Regions from separate parts of the Homo sapiens genome. Here region 2 is linked to region 1. The links come from fine-mapping of genetic effects on gene expression. Tissue or cell type: hippocampus. Region 1 holds a variant in brackets; the other region holds the start of a gene. All regions are shown on one strand. Distances are from middle to middle.

The links. PIP is the estimated chance that this variant, and not a neighbour inherited with it, causes the effect.
Region 2: it holds the start of ANKRD30BL, and the variant in region 1 is fine-mapped to the expression of ANKRD30BL in hippocampus (GTEx, PIP 0.99). The same link has a PIP of 0.9 or more in cerebral cortex, nucleus accumbens and prefrontal cortex.

The regions. Positions count from the first base shown.
Region 1 is chr2:132,253,082-132,261,345 of GRCh38, reverse strand. It overlaps MIR663B (microRNA 663b), which reads left to right and starts at 4,266; the gene lies at 4,266-4,380. It also overlaps a transcript of ANKRD30BL not described here, the pseudogene LOC107985804, the pseudogene RNA5-8SP5, the pseudogene LOC110467533 and the pseudogene CDC27P1. RefSeq lists a silencer at 5,956-6,250. The variant A/G (reference allele first, on the strand shown) is at 3,816.
Region 2 is chr2:132,157,106-132,165,105 of GRCh38, reverse strand. It overlaps ANKRD30BL (ankyrin repeat domain 30B like), which reads left to right and starts at 3,154. Exons shown (of 6, transcript NM_001358416.1): 1 at 3,154-3,618; 2 at 7,683-7,797; 3 at 7,960-8,000. The coding sequence starts at 3,401. RefSeq lists an enhancer at 2,361-2,861.

The DNA.
Region 1 (8,264 bases):
TTTCCTGGGCGGTAAGAACAGGTCGCCTGTAAAAACAAGGCTTCTTCTGAGTGTACTTCTGCATAAAGGCGTTCTGCGAGGAAAACCCCATCTCAGTAAGCATAGTGGTTTAGTGCTTGCCATATAGCAGCCTAGACGGGTTCCTGCAACACCGTCATCCTCGAGGCTCAGACCCACTTTCTGCAGTGCCTCAGGCACCCCCCACCACCCCGCCCACCCCCCTCCCCGCCAATAGCGGCTCCGGCCTTGCCAGCCTCAGCTCATTTAAACTCACGAGTTTTGTAGGTTGCCTGTTCACTCTGATGGTAGTTTCTTTTGTTGTGCAGAAGCTCTTTAATTAGATCCCATTTGTCAATTTTGGCTTTTGTTGCCATTGCTTTTGGTGTTTTAGACATGAAGTCCTTGCCCATGCCTATGTCCTGAATGGTAATGCCTAGGTTTTCTTCTAGGGTTTTTATGGTTTTAGGTCTAACGTGTAAGTCTTTAATCCATCTTGAATTGATTTTTGTATAAGGTGTAAGGAAGGGATCCAGTTTCAGCTTTCTACATATGGCTAGCAAGTTTTCCCAGCACCATGTATTAAATAGGGAATCCTTTCCCTATTGCTTGTTTTTCTCAGGTTTGTCAAAGATCAGATAGCTGTAGATATGTGGCATTATTTCTGAGGGCTCTGTTCTGTTCCATTGATCTATATCTCTGTTTTGGTACCAGTACCATGCTGTTTTGGTTACTGTAGCCTTGTAGTATAGTTTGAAGTCAGGTAGTGTGATGCCTCCAGCTTTGTTCTTTTGGCTTAGGATTGACTTGGCAATGCAGGCTCTTTTTTGGTTCCATATGAACTTTAAAGTAGTTTTTTCCAATTCTGTGAAGAAAGTCATTGGTAGCTTGATGGGGATGGCAAAGGAATCTAGAACTAGAAATACGATTTGACCCAGCCATCCCATTACTGGGTATATACCCAAAGGACTATAAATCGTGCTGCTATAAAGACTTATGCACACGTATGTTTATTGCAGCACTATTCACAATCGCAAAGACTTGGAACCAACCCAAATGTCCAACAATGATAGACTGGATTAAGAAACTGTGGCACATATACACTATGGAATACTATGCAGCCATAAAAAATGATGAGTTCATGTACTTTGTAGGGACATGGATGAAATTGGAAATCATCATTCTCAGTAAACTATCGCAAGAATAAAAAACCAAACATCGCATATTCTCACTCATAGGTGGGAATTGAACAATGAGAACACACGGACACAGGAAGGGGAACATCACACTCTGGGGACTGTTGTGGGGTGGGGGAAGGTGGGAGGGATAGCATTAGGAGATATACCTAATGCTAGATGAGGAGTTAGTGGGTGCAGCACACCAGCATGGCACATGTATACATATGTAACTAACCTGCACATTGTGCACATGTACCCTAAAATTTAAAGTATAATAATAATAAAAATAAAAATAAAAAAAAAACTCACCAGTTACCAGGGGATGGGGGAGGCTGAGCCAGAATGACTTCTTTAGCCTGCCGACTCTGGAAAGCCCAGCCCCTTGTGATCCATTGCAAAGCGAGAGTCACCTCATGTTTGGAAAACAGATCCGCTCCCAAGTTCAGTGGAGGGATGTGGCATATAGGACGAAGGACTCTCTTCATTCTGATTCGGTCTGCACAGTGGGTCCTAAGGCTGGAGCTCTCTCTGTGTGGACCGCTGACTCCCTCTACCTTGGGTTCCATCGGCCCCACCCTGGGACACGGGCCTTGGCAGATTCTGGCCCTTCCTGGCCCTTAAGTCACTGTCAGAAACCCCATCTCACACTCGGATGCCCCGAAAGACTGTGGCTCGCGCATCTCTGGAAACATTGGAAATCTCTCCTCTATGCGTGGCCACCTAAAACCACAGGAGCTCGGGACACACAGCCGCCATCCACCTCACTGCTTTCGGGAGAGAATGCTGAGAGCCTCTCTCAGACTCTCTCTTGACTTGAGTTCTTCATGGGTGTGTGGTTAAGACGTAGTGAGACCAGATGTATTAACTCAGGTCGGGTGCTGGTGTCTCACACCTGTAACCCCAACACTTTGGGAGGCTGAGGCCATAGGATCCCTTGAGGAATCGCCTAACCCTGGGGAGGTTGAGGCTACAGTGAGTGAGCCATAATGGTGTCACTGCACTCCAGTCTGGGAGAAAGACAGAGTGAGGCCCTGTCACAGGCAGGCAGGCAGGCAGGCAGGCAGACAACAGTTGTATTATATTCTTCTCTGGGTAGGAAGTAAAAATAACAGAATACAGTGCTTAATTTTTTTTTTTTTTTTTTTTGAGACGGAGTTTCACTGTTGTTGCCCATGCTGGAGTGCAATGGCACCATCTCGGCTCACCGCAACCTCCACCTCCCGTGTTCAAGCGATTCTCCTGCCTCAGACTCCTGAGTAGCTGGGATTACAGGCATGTGTCACCACACCCGGCTGATTTTGTATTGTTAGTAGAGACGGCATTTCTCCATGTGGGTCAGGCGGGTCTCGAACTGGCCACCTCAGGTGATCTGCCCACCTCGGCCTCCCAAAGTGCTGGGATGACAGGCATGAGCATTTGAGACCCGCCAGCTATGTTTTTTATAAATTTTCAATTTTAATCTATTTATTATTATTTTTTTTTTGAGATGGAGTCTCACTGTGTTGCCCAGACTGGAGTGCAGTGGCATGATGTCGGCTCACTGCAAGCTCTGCCTCCCGGGTTCACGCCATCCTCCTGTCTCAGCCTCCCAAGTAGCGGGGACTACTGGCACCCGCCACGGCGCCTGGCTAATTTTTGGTATTTTGAGTAGAGACGGGGTTTCACTGTGGTAGCCAGGATGGTCTCGATCTCCTGACCGTCGTGATCCGCCCGCCTCGGCCTCCCAAAGTGCTGGGATTACAGGAGTAAGCCACCGCTCCCGGCCTACTTATCTATTTATTAACTTTGAGTCCAGTTTATGAAAACAGTTAGTTTTTGTATTTTTTTAGAGACGAGGTTTCACCATGTTGCCAAGGCCTGGATCGAGGGATCCACCTTCCCTCGCCTCCCAAAGTGCGGGGATGACAGGCGTGAGCCTACCACGCCCGGCTCCTCCCCTTCACCCCCCAGCTTATCCCTCAGGTGCCCGAGGTCGAGTGGTGGTGTGTGGTTCCCACCCCCAGCGCCCCCTCCTCCGGTCACCGCCGCGATGTCCACCAGTGGGTCCTGAGGGAGCTCGTTGGTGTGGGGGTCGAGGCGGTTGAGTGAGACGCGCCCCTCCCACGCGGGGAAGGGTGCCGCCTGATCTGGCGAGCGCAGGTCCCGTGCTCCCCTCTGGCGGCTGCGCACGGGCCGTGTGAGCTATTGCGGTGGGCTGGGGCAGATGACGCGTGCGCCGGCCGGCCGCCGAGGGGCTACCGTTCTGCCTCCGACAGGTTGTGTGTGGGTTTACTTGGAGGTGCTTTGCCTGGGAGAAAGGAGGCTGGTGGACTAGGGGGCCCTTCGGGGATTGCGCGCACGCGCAGCGGCCAGGCCCCCTGCCCAGACCGCGAAGGCTCAAGGTTGCCGCACGCAGATTTTTCCTGGTACCGCAGGCCCCCTCCCTTCCCCAGGCGTCCCTGAGCGCCTCTGCGGGCCCGACGAGGGGCGACTGGCGTGTGGGGAGTGTGACCCACCCTCGGTGAGAAAGCCTTCTCTAGCGATCTGAGAGGTGTGCCTTTGGGGTACCGGATCCCCCGGCCTGCCGCCTCTCTTTGCGTTATGGTAGCGCTGCCGTGGCGACTGGCTTGCAGAGGACCCTCCTCCACTTCCCCCTTGATG[A/G]GGTGAGTGGGGGAAAGCAAGGGTTCCGCCAGCCTCCGCGGTGGGGACCCAGGGAAGCTCGTCGCCTACTGTGTGGCCCGCGCCTTCCCCTTCCGAGTCAGGGGAGAATCCCGCCGGGCCGGGCCGGCGTCCTAGCGGTTGGGAGGCTGCGTGAGCGGTGGCTGTGCCTGGCGTTCAGTCCGGCTTGTGACCCGTTCCGCTGTGAGCCGGCTCTCTGCCCGCTCCCCTGCAGAGCAGCGACCGGTGCCGACGACCGTGTTTGCGTGGCACGGGGTTGGGCCGCCTGGCCCTGGGAAGCGTCCCAAGTGGGGGGCATGCCGGTCTCCTGGAGCTTGACCGGGTTGGAGGATGGATGAGAAACGAGCAACGTGGCCCTGGCGTTAGGTTTGTGGCTGAGGTCACCTCGGGGTCCTGATGGCGGGACCTGGGGCTCATGAGGCGGGTCTCGGTGGTGCCGAGGGCCGTCCGGCATCCTAGGCGGGTCGCTGCGGTACCTCCCTCCTGTCTGTGGCGGTGGGATCCCGTGGCCGTGTTTTCCTGGTGGCCCGGCCGTGCCTGAGGTTTCTCCCCGAGCCGCCCCTCTGCGGGCTCCCAGGTGCCCTTGCCCTCGCGGTCCCTGGCCTTGCCTGTCTGTGCCCCCCACCCTGCCCGCGGATCCTCTCTCCCCGAGCGGCTCACCGCCTTAGGCTGTGGTGGCCCCGTCTGGGACCAAACCCGGCTCTGCCTGGTGGGGCGCCGCCGCTAGCCACTGGTTGGCCCGTTGTCCGTGTCCCCGGGCGTGCGCCTTCGGGACCAGGTCGGCGGCACCCCGAGTGGGCCTGGTGGACACCCGGAGGGTTTGGGGTCGGCCAGCAGTGTGTGCAGGGAAGAGGGTTCAGGGGGCTGGCCGCGACAGTGGCGGCGGTGGGGAAGCCGCAGGCCCGCCGAAGGCCAGTCGGCCGCTCCAGGTGCCGCGAGGGGCCGCCTTCATGCCCCGAGGCCACTGGCGGTGAGACCCCAGGCACCGCGGTCCGCCTCTCCTTCGCTGCCCAAACGTCGGGGCCGCCCCGCGCCCTCCGCGCATGAGTGGCCGCCGGTCCCTCGCGGCTGCCGCACACGGGTCGGGCGGTCGGCCTCCTCGCACATGGGCACGAAGGGTCGGGAGTGGTGAGCCCGTCGGGGGGTTTTGTGTCCTGTGGGTGGATGGGATGTCCGGTTCGCCGCCCCACCACCCCCCTCCCACCACCCCAAGCTGCTCCCTCCCTCCCCCACGCCCCATCGCCCGCCCTGCCGCGCCCAATCTCGCAACTGGGACGCCGGGCTCATCCTCGCGAGTCCCAGAGGCCGCTTTCTACCTACCTGGTTGATCCTATCAGAACCATATGCTTGTCTCAAAGATTAAGCCATACATGTCTAAGTACGCAGGGCTGGTACAGTAAAACTGCGAATGGCTCATTAAATCAGTTATGGTTCTTTTGGTCGCTGGCTCCTCTCCTACTTGGAAAACTGTGGTAATTCTAGAGCTATTACATGCTGAAGGGCACTGACCCCCTTCACAGGGAAGATGCGTGCATTTATCAGATCAAAACCAACCCAGTCAGCCCCTCTCCGTCCCCGGCCGGGGGGTCGGGTGCCGCCAGCTTTGGTGCTTCTGGATAACCTCGGGCCAATCGCACGCCCCCCGTGGCAGCGATGACCCATTCGAATGTCTGCCCTATCAACTTTCTATGGTAGTCGCTGTGCCTATCATGGTGACCACGGGTGACAGGGAATCAGGGTTCAATTCTGGAGAAGGAGCCTGAGAAATGGCTACCACATTCAAGGAAGGCAGCAGACACTCAAATTACCCACTCCTGACACGGGGAGGTAGTGACGAAAAATAACAATACAGGACTCTTTCTAGGCCCTGTAATTGGAATGAGTGCACTTTAAATCTTTTAATGAGGATCAATTGGAGGGCAAGTCTGGTGCCAGCAGCCGTGGTAATTCCAGCTCCAATAGCGTATATTAAAGTTGTTGCAGTTAAAAAGCTCGTAGTTGAATCTTGGGAGCGGGTGGGCTAGCGAGCCACAGCCCGTCCCTGCTTCTTGCCTCTCGGTGCCCCCTGGATGCTCTTAGCTGAGTGTCCTGTGGCCCGAAGCACTTACTTTGAAAAAATTAGAGTGTTCAAAGCAGGCCCAAGCCGCCTGGATACTGCAGCTTGGAATAATGGAATAGGACCACAGTTCTATTTTGTTGGTTTTCGGAACTGAGGCCATGATTAAGAGGGACGGCCGGGGGCATTCATATTGCACCGCTAGAGGTGAAATTCTTGGACTGGCAGTTTAGACCAGAGCGAAAGCATTTGCCAAGAATGTTTTCATTAATCAAGAACGAAAGTCGGAGGTTCGAAGACGATCAGATACCGTTGTAATTCCGACCATAAACGATGCCAACTGGCGATGTGGCGGTGTTATTCCCATGACCCGCTGGGCAGCTTCCAAGAAACCAGTCTTTGGGTTTTTGGGTTCCGAGGGGAGTATGGTTGCAAAGCTGAAACTTAAAGGAATTGACAGAAGGGCACCACCAGGAGTGGAGCCTGCAGCTTAATTTGACTCAACATGGGAAAACTCACCCAGCCTGGACACGGACAGGATTGACAGATTGATAGCTCTTTCTCGATTCCACGGGTGGTGGTGCATGGCCTTAGTTGCTGGAGTGATTTGTCTGGCTAATTCCAATAACGAACGAGACTCTGGCATGCCAACTAGTTATGTGACCCTGGAGCGGTCGGCATCCCCCAACTTCTTAGAGGGACAAGTGGCGTTCAGCCACCTGAGATTGAGCAATAACAGGTCTGTGATGCCCTTAAATGTCCAGGGCTGCACGCGCGCTACACTGACTGGCTCAGCGTGTGCCTACCCTATGTGGCAGATGTGGGTAACCTGTTGAACCTCATTGGCGATGGTGATCAGGGATTGCAATTTTTCCCCATGAATGAGGAATTCCCAGTAAGTGCTGGTCATAAGCTTGCATGAAGTCCCTGCCCTTTGTACACACTGCAGTCGCTACTCCTGATTGGATGGTTTAGTGAGGCCCTCGGATCAGCCCGCTGGGTCAGCCCACTGCCCTGGCGGAACGCTGAGAAGACAGTCGAACTTGACTATCTAGAGGAAGTAAAAGTCGTAACAAAGTTTCGGTAGGTGAACCTGCGGAGGGATCATTAACAGAGAAGAGCGAAGCCACGGAGACGCCGCCATGTCCTTCCTCCTTGGCTGACCGTGTTCCCCTGTGGCGCATGCATGGGCGGAGTCGTGCCCTTTGTTCGTTGCATGGCCCCACCTGCCCCGAGAGCCAGAGAACTCGGGAGGGAGAGAGGGGGTAGAAAGAGACATGCGTGTGGGGATGAAACCGTGTGTGCGTGTCGTGGGGCGGGCTGGATGGCTCGCAGCCTGGTGAGCAGTGGGGAGCAGTCCCCTGCTGTGGCCCCCATGTGTGTGTCGGTGGGCGCGGGGGTGGTTCTCGGCGTCACGGTGGGGTGGGGGTCTCAGTGCCCTCCCCACTGGGGCTGTCATCGTGCCCTGTCCCACTGTCCCAGCCCCATCCTGCCCACTCCCTTTGGGGCTGGCCAGGTTCCCATCGCTGCCGCTGCCACCATCGTCACCTCTGCCAAACCATGCCACTGGCCCGGCCCGGCCCGCTTGCTCTCCCCAGCCTTCCCGCTAGGGGGTCTCGAGGGTAGGGGGCCGGATGCCGGTCCCACCCCCCTCATCCGCCCCCGCCATCCAGGTACCTAGCGCATTCTGGTGCAGAGGTTTAAGGACCCCTTGAGGGGTCGCCGGTCTGCCTGTGGGTCAGGTGCAGTGGGCCCACAGTGGAGTCCGTTCAGGAGGGGCCCGCCCCTCCCTCGCCTCCCCTGCCGACTCCGTCCCCCCGGCCAGCTGGGGCCACGCCACACTTGCGTGTCGCCACTGATGTCGGTGGGGGCTTTACCCAGTGGCCATCGTGCTGTCGTGCATGCTGCACGTGTGGCCTGTACCCCGCTCTGTGGGGGCGGGAACCCCTGGGCTCCCATGGGGTGGTGTCAGCGTTTGCCCCCCACTGTGGTCGGCACCACCTCTCTGTGTTGTGAAACCTTCCAACCCCTCTCTGGAGTCTGGTCCAGTTGCTGTCTGACTGGCCAGCCTGAGGTAACCCCTCTGGGTGACGTGCTGTGCCAGGAGGGCCTCCCGTTGTTGGGAGTGCCCTCGCCAAATCAACCTTGTATGACTTTTAGTGGTGGATCACTCAGCTCCTGTGTCAATGAACAACACAGCTAGCTGGGAGAATTAATGTGAACTGCAAGACACGTTGATCATCGACTCTTCGAATGCACTTGCGGCCCGGGTTCCTCCCAGGGCTATGCCTGTCTGAGCGTCACTTGCCAATCAAAATCCCCCAGGGTTGCCTCTGGGCTCCTCGGGGTGCATGACTGTTCCCTGGCAGGGCCCA
Region 2 (8,000 bases), 96 kb after region 1:
CATTTGCGTTTTTTTTTGTTTGTTTTTTGTTTTGAGACGGAGTCTGCTCTGTCGCCCAGGCTGGAGTGCAGTGGCACGATCTCGGCTCACTGCAAGCTCCGCAACCCGGATTCACGCCATTCTCACGCCTCAGCCTCCCAAGTAGCTGGGACTACAGGTGCCTGCCACCACGCCTGGCTAATTTTGTTTTTGTATTTGTAGTAGAGACGGGGTTTCACCGTGTAGCCAGGATGGTCCCCATCTTCTGACCTCGTGATCTGCCCGCCTTGGCCTCCCAAAGTGCTGGGATTACAGGCGTGAGCCACTGCACCTGGCCTGCATTTGTTAAAAAACAAAGAATGTCACTTAATATATGCAAATTTTAAAACAACAACAACAACAAAGTAGGTGTTCTGGGGATCCTGAGATGGAATGCAGAATGTGATAGAAAATCTAAAGTACTACAAATGTATAAAGCCACTTCACTCTAGGGAGTGGGAAAAACGTGCTGACATAAGCATCTTAGAAAATGGATGGGCCTTCTGTGGTGGCTCACATCTGTAATCCCAGCACTTTGGGAGGCCAAGGTGGGCGGATCACCTGAGGCTGGGAGTTTGAGACCAGCCTGGCCAAAATGGTGAAACCCTATCTCTACTAAAAAGACAAAAATTAGCTGGGCATGATGGCGGGTGCCTGTAATCCCAGCTACTCAGGAGGCTGAGGCAGGAGAATCGCTTGAACCTGGGAAGTAGAGGTTGCAGTGAGCCGAGATCACGCCACTGCACTCCAGCCTCAGCCTGGGCAAGAAGGCAAGAAGAGCAGAACTCCATCTTAAAAAAAAAAAAAAAAAAAAAAAAGAAAAAGAAAAAGAAACAAAGAAAATGCATGAAGACTGAAAGGAAGAGAAACTGCAAACAACTCATGTGATCTGGTTGGTATAGCTGTCTCCTACAGGAAATGGGATAGCGATTCTGATATTGATAGAGAATGAATGTATATTGGAACTAGACAGTTAAGCAAACGGATGACAAATGACAGGAGCCTGGTTTCTCATTATTAAAGTGGGAGGTTACATGTAAGCAAGGGGAGAAGGCCGGAATGATCATGTGATAAAAGAATTGAGTCGTAGACATCAGTATGAACTAACACTTACACACATTACATTTAGAAATATTTATAGTTATGTGTATACACAGCTTTGTATACACACATTTATTTCTTTGCTCTGTAAACTAAGACGGTCTAGAAGCAATGATATCCCAGCAGAAATGAGCATATCTAACACTCAAGTCTTCAATTCTTGGGTTTTTGTTCATGATCCAGGATCCAGGAGTTGGGCCCTGGGGCTGGGCATTGTGTAGCCTCCGGGGTGGTGCTGAGCATCCATTCCCACCCTCCTGCAGCTGGGGACCCATCCCTTGACTTGGGCCCCCTGGAGGCAAGAACATGGTCACCCACTTTAATCACATGGTCCCTATCACATAATCAGAGGGCTCTGTGGGTTTTAATTCTTCAAGCTAGATGTGTAAACAATTCGACATAGATAAGATATAGTGACTAGAAGTCTTTCATTTATTTATTTTGAGAGAGAGTCTCTGTTGCCCAGGCTTGGAGTGCAGCGGCACAAACAATCAAACAATAACCAAAATCCAGAAGACTGAAAAGGTCAAATGCTGTCAAGGATGGGGAGCAACAGGACCTCTCATTCCTTGTTTGTGGCACAATCAGTTTACTGTACCCACGAACTCCCAGGCCCAAGTGATCCTGCCACAATCAATCTCCCAAGTAGCTGGGGCCACAGGCATGCACCACCATGCCTGGCTGATTGGTTTTATTTTTATAGAGATAAAGTTTCCCTGTGTTGTCTAAGCTGGTCTCAAACTCCTGGGATCAAGTGATCCTCCTATCTCGGTCTCCCAAAGTGCTGTAAGTACAGGCATGAGGTCCTGCACCCAGCCTGGAAGTCTTTATAGATAAGTTCAATTTAACTGTTTCTCCATCTGCTCCACTCAGCCGAGTTTCCCTCTCAGTCCAAGGGTGAGAACTGCAGCTCAGCCCCATCCAGGAGGGCTGCAGATGACCCAGCGCCACTGCCATACTCCAGATGCTGGTCAACGAGGAAGGGATCCTGAGGCCTGGCAGCGGGCGCTCTCAGGAACCTTGAAGCCCTCTAAACGGGACCCGCCATCCGTGCCTGTCAGAACTGTAGCCGCTACCTGCACTTGGCGCACAGGCAAATACGGCCAAGCAACCCCAAACTCCCCTCTTCCCCTCTGGGCCCAGGCGGCGCTGAACCTGCTGCTCAGCCGCATCCTGGCGACTGCACAGTGCCCAGAGCCTGCAAACCAGCGCTCAGGGCGCGAGCCAAGGAAGAGCAGGGCCTAGAGTGGGAGGGCGTGTGCCACACGGCTACCCTCAGGCCGTCGGGCCCAGCCCTGCAGCCTCTACCGTGGGCTCAGCTGCAGCTGGCATTTGAAGGTGGCAGCAGCGGTGGCAACCCCCGAACCTGTCCGCGCCACCAGCAGGCGAACCCCAGGGTCGGACACCGCCACTGCGCCTAAGTCAGGCAGTGGGACCTCAGTTGCAGGATCGTGGGAACCTGCCGCAAAGCCTCATCGCCGCAGCTGTACAGGGCCCAGTGGTGGCAAGCCTGCGCTGCCAGCGCGAGCCGAGGAAGAGCAGAGCCCCGGGTGGAAGGGCGATGTACTCGGCGATGCTCAGCGGTCTGGGCCCAACCCTGTAGCCTCTACCATGGGCTCAGCTGCAGCTGCCACCTGAACATGGCACGTGGCAGGAGAGGCTGCAACCCTGACCCTGCCAGCGCCACCAGCCGCGCGGATACTTGGGCCAGAAGCCTCCAGGCGCCTAAGTCAGGGATGGGTCCCTGGCTGCAAGAGGCCGGGAACCGACGCTCAGCGCCACCCTGGAGGCTGCACGATGCCCAGCGCCAGGGCCCAGCTCCTGGATCTCAGGTTGAGGAGGGGACAGGGGCAGCTCTGTCAAGCAGGCCATGTGGCAGGGAGCCCCCCACGTTCCGCTCCAGGGAGCCCCGCCAGCCCGATAGCGCCTCAGTAGCAGGTGCCACCTGCACGCCGTGCTGGGCGAAGCGCAGCCAGGGCGGTTTCCTGCCTCGCGTGTCTCCCAGGTCTGCTGAGTTGCGCATGCGCTGTTGCCTAACGGTTCTGCTCAGCTGCCTAAAGGTTCTGCTCAGGTGCCTAACGGTTCTGCTCAGCTGCCTAACGGTTTTGCGCAGCCATTTTCTCCCGGGAGAGGTTGGAGTGTCCAAAAGCTTGGCCCGACTGAGATTTCTAGTCTTGTCAGGGCGGATGCAGGGACTGAAGAAGGGCGAGGGCGAGCGGCGGGGACTGGGGAAGGGCGAGCAGCGGGAGGCACGGGCTCTCTCTAGCAGGTGGCTGCAGCCATGGAGAGGCTCTCTGCCGCCCCTGTCAAGGGCCAGACGGGCCCAGAGCGCCCGAGCCCCTTCAGTCAGCTGGTCTACACCAACAACGACTCTTACGTGATTCACCATGGGGATCTCAGGAAGATCCACAAAGCTGCCTCCCGGGGCCAAGCCTGGAAGCTGGAGAGGATGATGAAGAAGACGACAATGGACCTGAACATAAGAGATGCGAAGAAGAGGTACCAGGCCCTGCCTGAGCCGGGGCTGCAGGAGGAGGAGGAGGCTGTGGGAGGATCGCCCCTTCAGAGTGGGGCCTGGGGGTCCTGGGGACGAGGGGAGCAGGTGGAGGAGTGGCGGGCAGCGGGGCGGCCGTCCTGGGCCCCGAGGTCTTGGCCTTCTTCCCGGGCAGGTCCCCCAGGCCTTGGATGAGGGCGCCCTGCAGGGCGGAGGGCACAGGCCACCTTAAAATCAACCCCAAACTTTAGCTGCTTTCTCCTTCACTCCCACTTCCTCTCACAGAGCACTGTGTAGAGAATTTTAAAGTGATTTAACTTATAAAATTAAGTACATACAGGGTTTTACTTTTAATGTACAGGTTTTAAAAGATGTTAGATACATTATGAAATGGTGCATAATGAAATAATTCCCATAATATATTAACTTCTTGGCTAAAAATTTTTTGGATAAAGTCCAGTATCCATTTCAATATCAATGAATGTCTATGTAAATATATTCTTTGCTGAGGGACCTTAGAAGGTAACTTTGAGGTGGGAAGATGGTTTATGTTTTCGAATTTAAGAAGACTCATTTTTCTGAAGATGCAAGTTCTTTATCAGTTTTACATAAACCAAATAAAGTTATCAACGTTTTAACATTTTTAAAATTACACACGCTGTCTTTTACTATTGTGGTGACATTTAAAACATTTTGTAACGGAGTAGAAAAGTCTTGCCCTTCTAGATTTCAAAATGTGCTATTAATTTGCACAAAATGGGCCATGGCCAGGCGCGGTGGATCATGCCTGTAATCCCAGCACTTTGGGAGGCCGAGGTGGGTGGATCATGAGGTCAGGAGATCGAGACCATCCTGGCTAACACGGTCTCTACTAAAAATACAAAAAATTAGCCGGGCGTGGTGGTGGGCGCCTGTAGTCCCAGATACTTGGGAGGCTGAGTCAGGAGAATGGTGTGAACCTGGAAGGCAGAGCTTGGAGTGAGCCGAGATCGCACCACTGCACTCCAGCCTGGGTGACAGAGCAAGACTCCGTCTCAAAATAATAATAATAAATAAATAAATAAATAAAATTTGAAAAAAAAAAAAAAAAAGGGCCAGGCGTCGTGGCTCATGCCTGTAGTCCCAGCACTTCGGGCGGCCAAGGCGGGTGGATCACCTGAGGTCAGGATTTCAAGACTAGCCTGGCCAATATAGTGAAACCTCAAATCTACAAAAATACAAAAATTAGCCAGGCAGGATGTCGGGAGCCTGTAAGCCCATCTACTCGGGAGGCTGAGGAGGGAGAATCGCTTGAAACTGGGAGGCGGAGGTTGCAGTGAGCTGAGATCCCATCACTGCACTCTAGCCTGGGAGACAGTGAGACTCTGTCTCAAAAATAAATAAATAAATCACAAATTATTTGATAACAGCTGAAAAGACAGGTAAATGAATACAACAGAGTAGAAAATCCAGAAACACCCAAATATCTAAGAATTTAGAACTTGATAATGCTCACAGGTTATACTAGTAGGGAAAGAATTAGTTTCATAAGTGAAATGCCTGCTTTTTGGAGAAAACTAGATTTTTATGCCACAAAGTAAATTTCTGATGGAATATAGATTAAATTTTTTTAATATACAAAATGATAAAAGCACCAGAAGAAAACATAAATACCTATTTACACAGGTACATTTTTATGTTGACAACACCTTTCTAAGAAGCTCAGAAGCAAGCAGTCTGAAGGATAATTAAGCAAAACAAAATTAAATTAAACTGTAATGAGAAAAAATAAAAGGCAGCATACTTGTAAAATATTTACTACACATGTATGTGAGTGTGTGTATACATATTAGATTTTTAAATCGTCATTTTATAGATAATTCACTTAAATCAACAAAAAACCCGCTAATTATAATTGAGCAATTTAAGTTAGAGATATAAATTGCAGATCTAAAAATAGTACTTTGCTTCTAATTTAAAATTGGGAAAGTATTTTCTTAAGATCTGTAAGTGACCTATGCACACAGAAAACAATATTTAGTGTTCCTGGTTACAGAAGGCATTTAAGTTAAAAAAGGAATCAAATACTGCTTTCTATCTACAAAGTTTGTGAGGATAAAGAGCAGTGATATTTATACTGCTGTTTAAAGTTTAAGTTGCAGATAACTTTTCAAATAGACAATTTGGTGGTAAGTACCATATTATTAAGAAGAATTCATATAATGACTTTTATAAATACATTTCAGTGAATTTACAGCATGGGATAATATGTGACCACTGAAGGTAGAAATATGTAGAGAAATAGGTGACATTTGAAAATGTATTCTGGTGTATCAAGTGAGGGTAAAGTTCAGTTTGATTATACATACACACAGACTACAGTCTTGTGTTATCTGAAGTTGTGTATGAAATATGATAAAATTTGTTATTTGAGGGTGTTTAATATAAAATGTTTTTCCTTTTTATTATCTTTGATTTCCACATTGAGCATGTACAATGCTATTAGAAAAAGTTTATTATTAATGAAAAATTTTTGGGAAGAGCAGAAATATAATTTTGCACCAATAAAAATAATTTCTCACTTTCCGTAATTTAATTATTACTTTTTGTGGATTAGTATATTCTGTGAACTTTTAGCATCTTCAAAAGACAATCTTTTTACCTGTGCTTGTTGATTTACATATACATCTTATTAGACACATATTTTTATTATATATAGATTTATTACATATATGTCAATAATTATAGATTAATTAGTGTAGTTTTATTATTAAGAAAATAAAATAGAAAATATAAGTGCTTTATTTATAGCAGTTTTTTTAAGGTATTGAACTTCTCAACTGTATTTATCCTTTTAATCAATTTATCACATGTAAGCTGAATGCCTATTATGTAGAAGATACATTAACTCTCAAGATCCTTTCATCCTTAAAAATTTCACATTTACCTGCTCAGCCTTAGCAAAGTGAGAGATTTAAAGTTGGAGTACTAGGAATGAATCTCAATTGAAGATTTTCCTCTCATCTTTAAAACAAAAACACTTCTGAAGTAAGAAACTAGTAAAAGATAACTACCAACCACGATTTTGGAAATTTATAACAGCTTTAAATAGTAATATTAATCATTGGAAATACCTAATTTACATGCATTCTATAAATTTAAATATGAATTTACATACATTCTGTAAATCTAAACATGGAATAAAATAAGCCATACCTTCTTGAATCCCAAGTTTTCTTTGGCTTGAAGTTTTAAAAATATTAAAGAAGTACTTTGTTTTAACAGTTTGTTTTTATTTCAACTCTCCTTTTGTATAGCACTCTTAAAAGCTAAAATTTCTTTAAGTGTTAATCCTATGACTAAGACTGCCATCATCCTGTTGTATATACCATATTCCACTTCATGGAAGGCACGGTGAATTGTGTGATGCCTCCTTATTTATGTACCAATACAAGATTGTTTAAATTTCTGCAAAATATACTTGTAACAAATAATGACTTATAAGCGGCATTTCAATGTCAGAGATGTTAAAATACGAGAAATAGAGTATTTCAGAATTATTAAAATAGCTTTATCTCTAACCTTTAAAACATACCACAAATTAGGCATAATTGTACCATTTTACTTAAAATGTTTTCTTTGTTAAGTAGTAGAAATAATTACATTATCTATCAATTACTGAGCTGTTACATGTGCTAGGAATTCTTCCAAATACATTGCACATATTCTCATGAGGCATCACAGTGATGTCCTGTGAGATAACTACTGTATTCATCTTCACTTTATTGATGAGAAAATTGAGGCAGAGAAAGGTTAAGTGATAGTAGAAGGTGAAAGACTTTAAAGTAATATTCAAGCCCAAGTTGAACTGAATCCAAAGGCCAAGCTCTTTCTGTTCAAACAGGCACTCTTTCATTAATGTAGTGAGTAATAACAGTGAAGGAATATTGTAGTTTCTTCAGGAGAATATTAAATATTTGTTTTGAAGGCAGAGAAAGAGCATGGTATTTAATGTTGACAATTACATAAATCATTCTATGTTTTGAGACAGTGGACTAAACTTTCCTTAAAAGGCCTCTCATTCTTGTAGGACTGCTCTATACTGGGCCTGTGCCAATGGCCATGCAGAAGTAGTAACACTTCTGGTAGATAGAAAGTGTCAGCTTGACGTCCTTGATGGTGAAAACAGGACCATTCTGATGAAGGTAAATGGTAGCCAGTTCTTTCAGCAGGAGATGGATTTGGTTTAAATACATAGAATAAAAATGAATCTATCTCATTGAAATATAACTGGTTTGTGAAACCTGTGGAATATTTATTTATATTTCCTATAATTTATAATTTACTTTTTGCTTTAATACTGACAGGCTCTGCAATGCCAGAGGGAGGCTTGTGCAAATATTCTCAT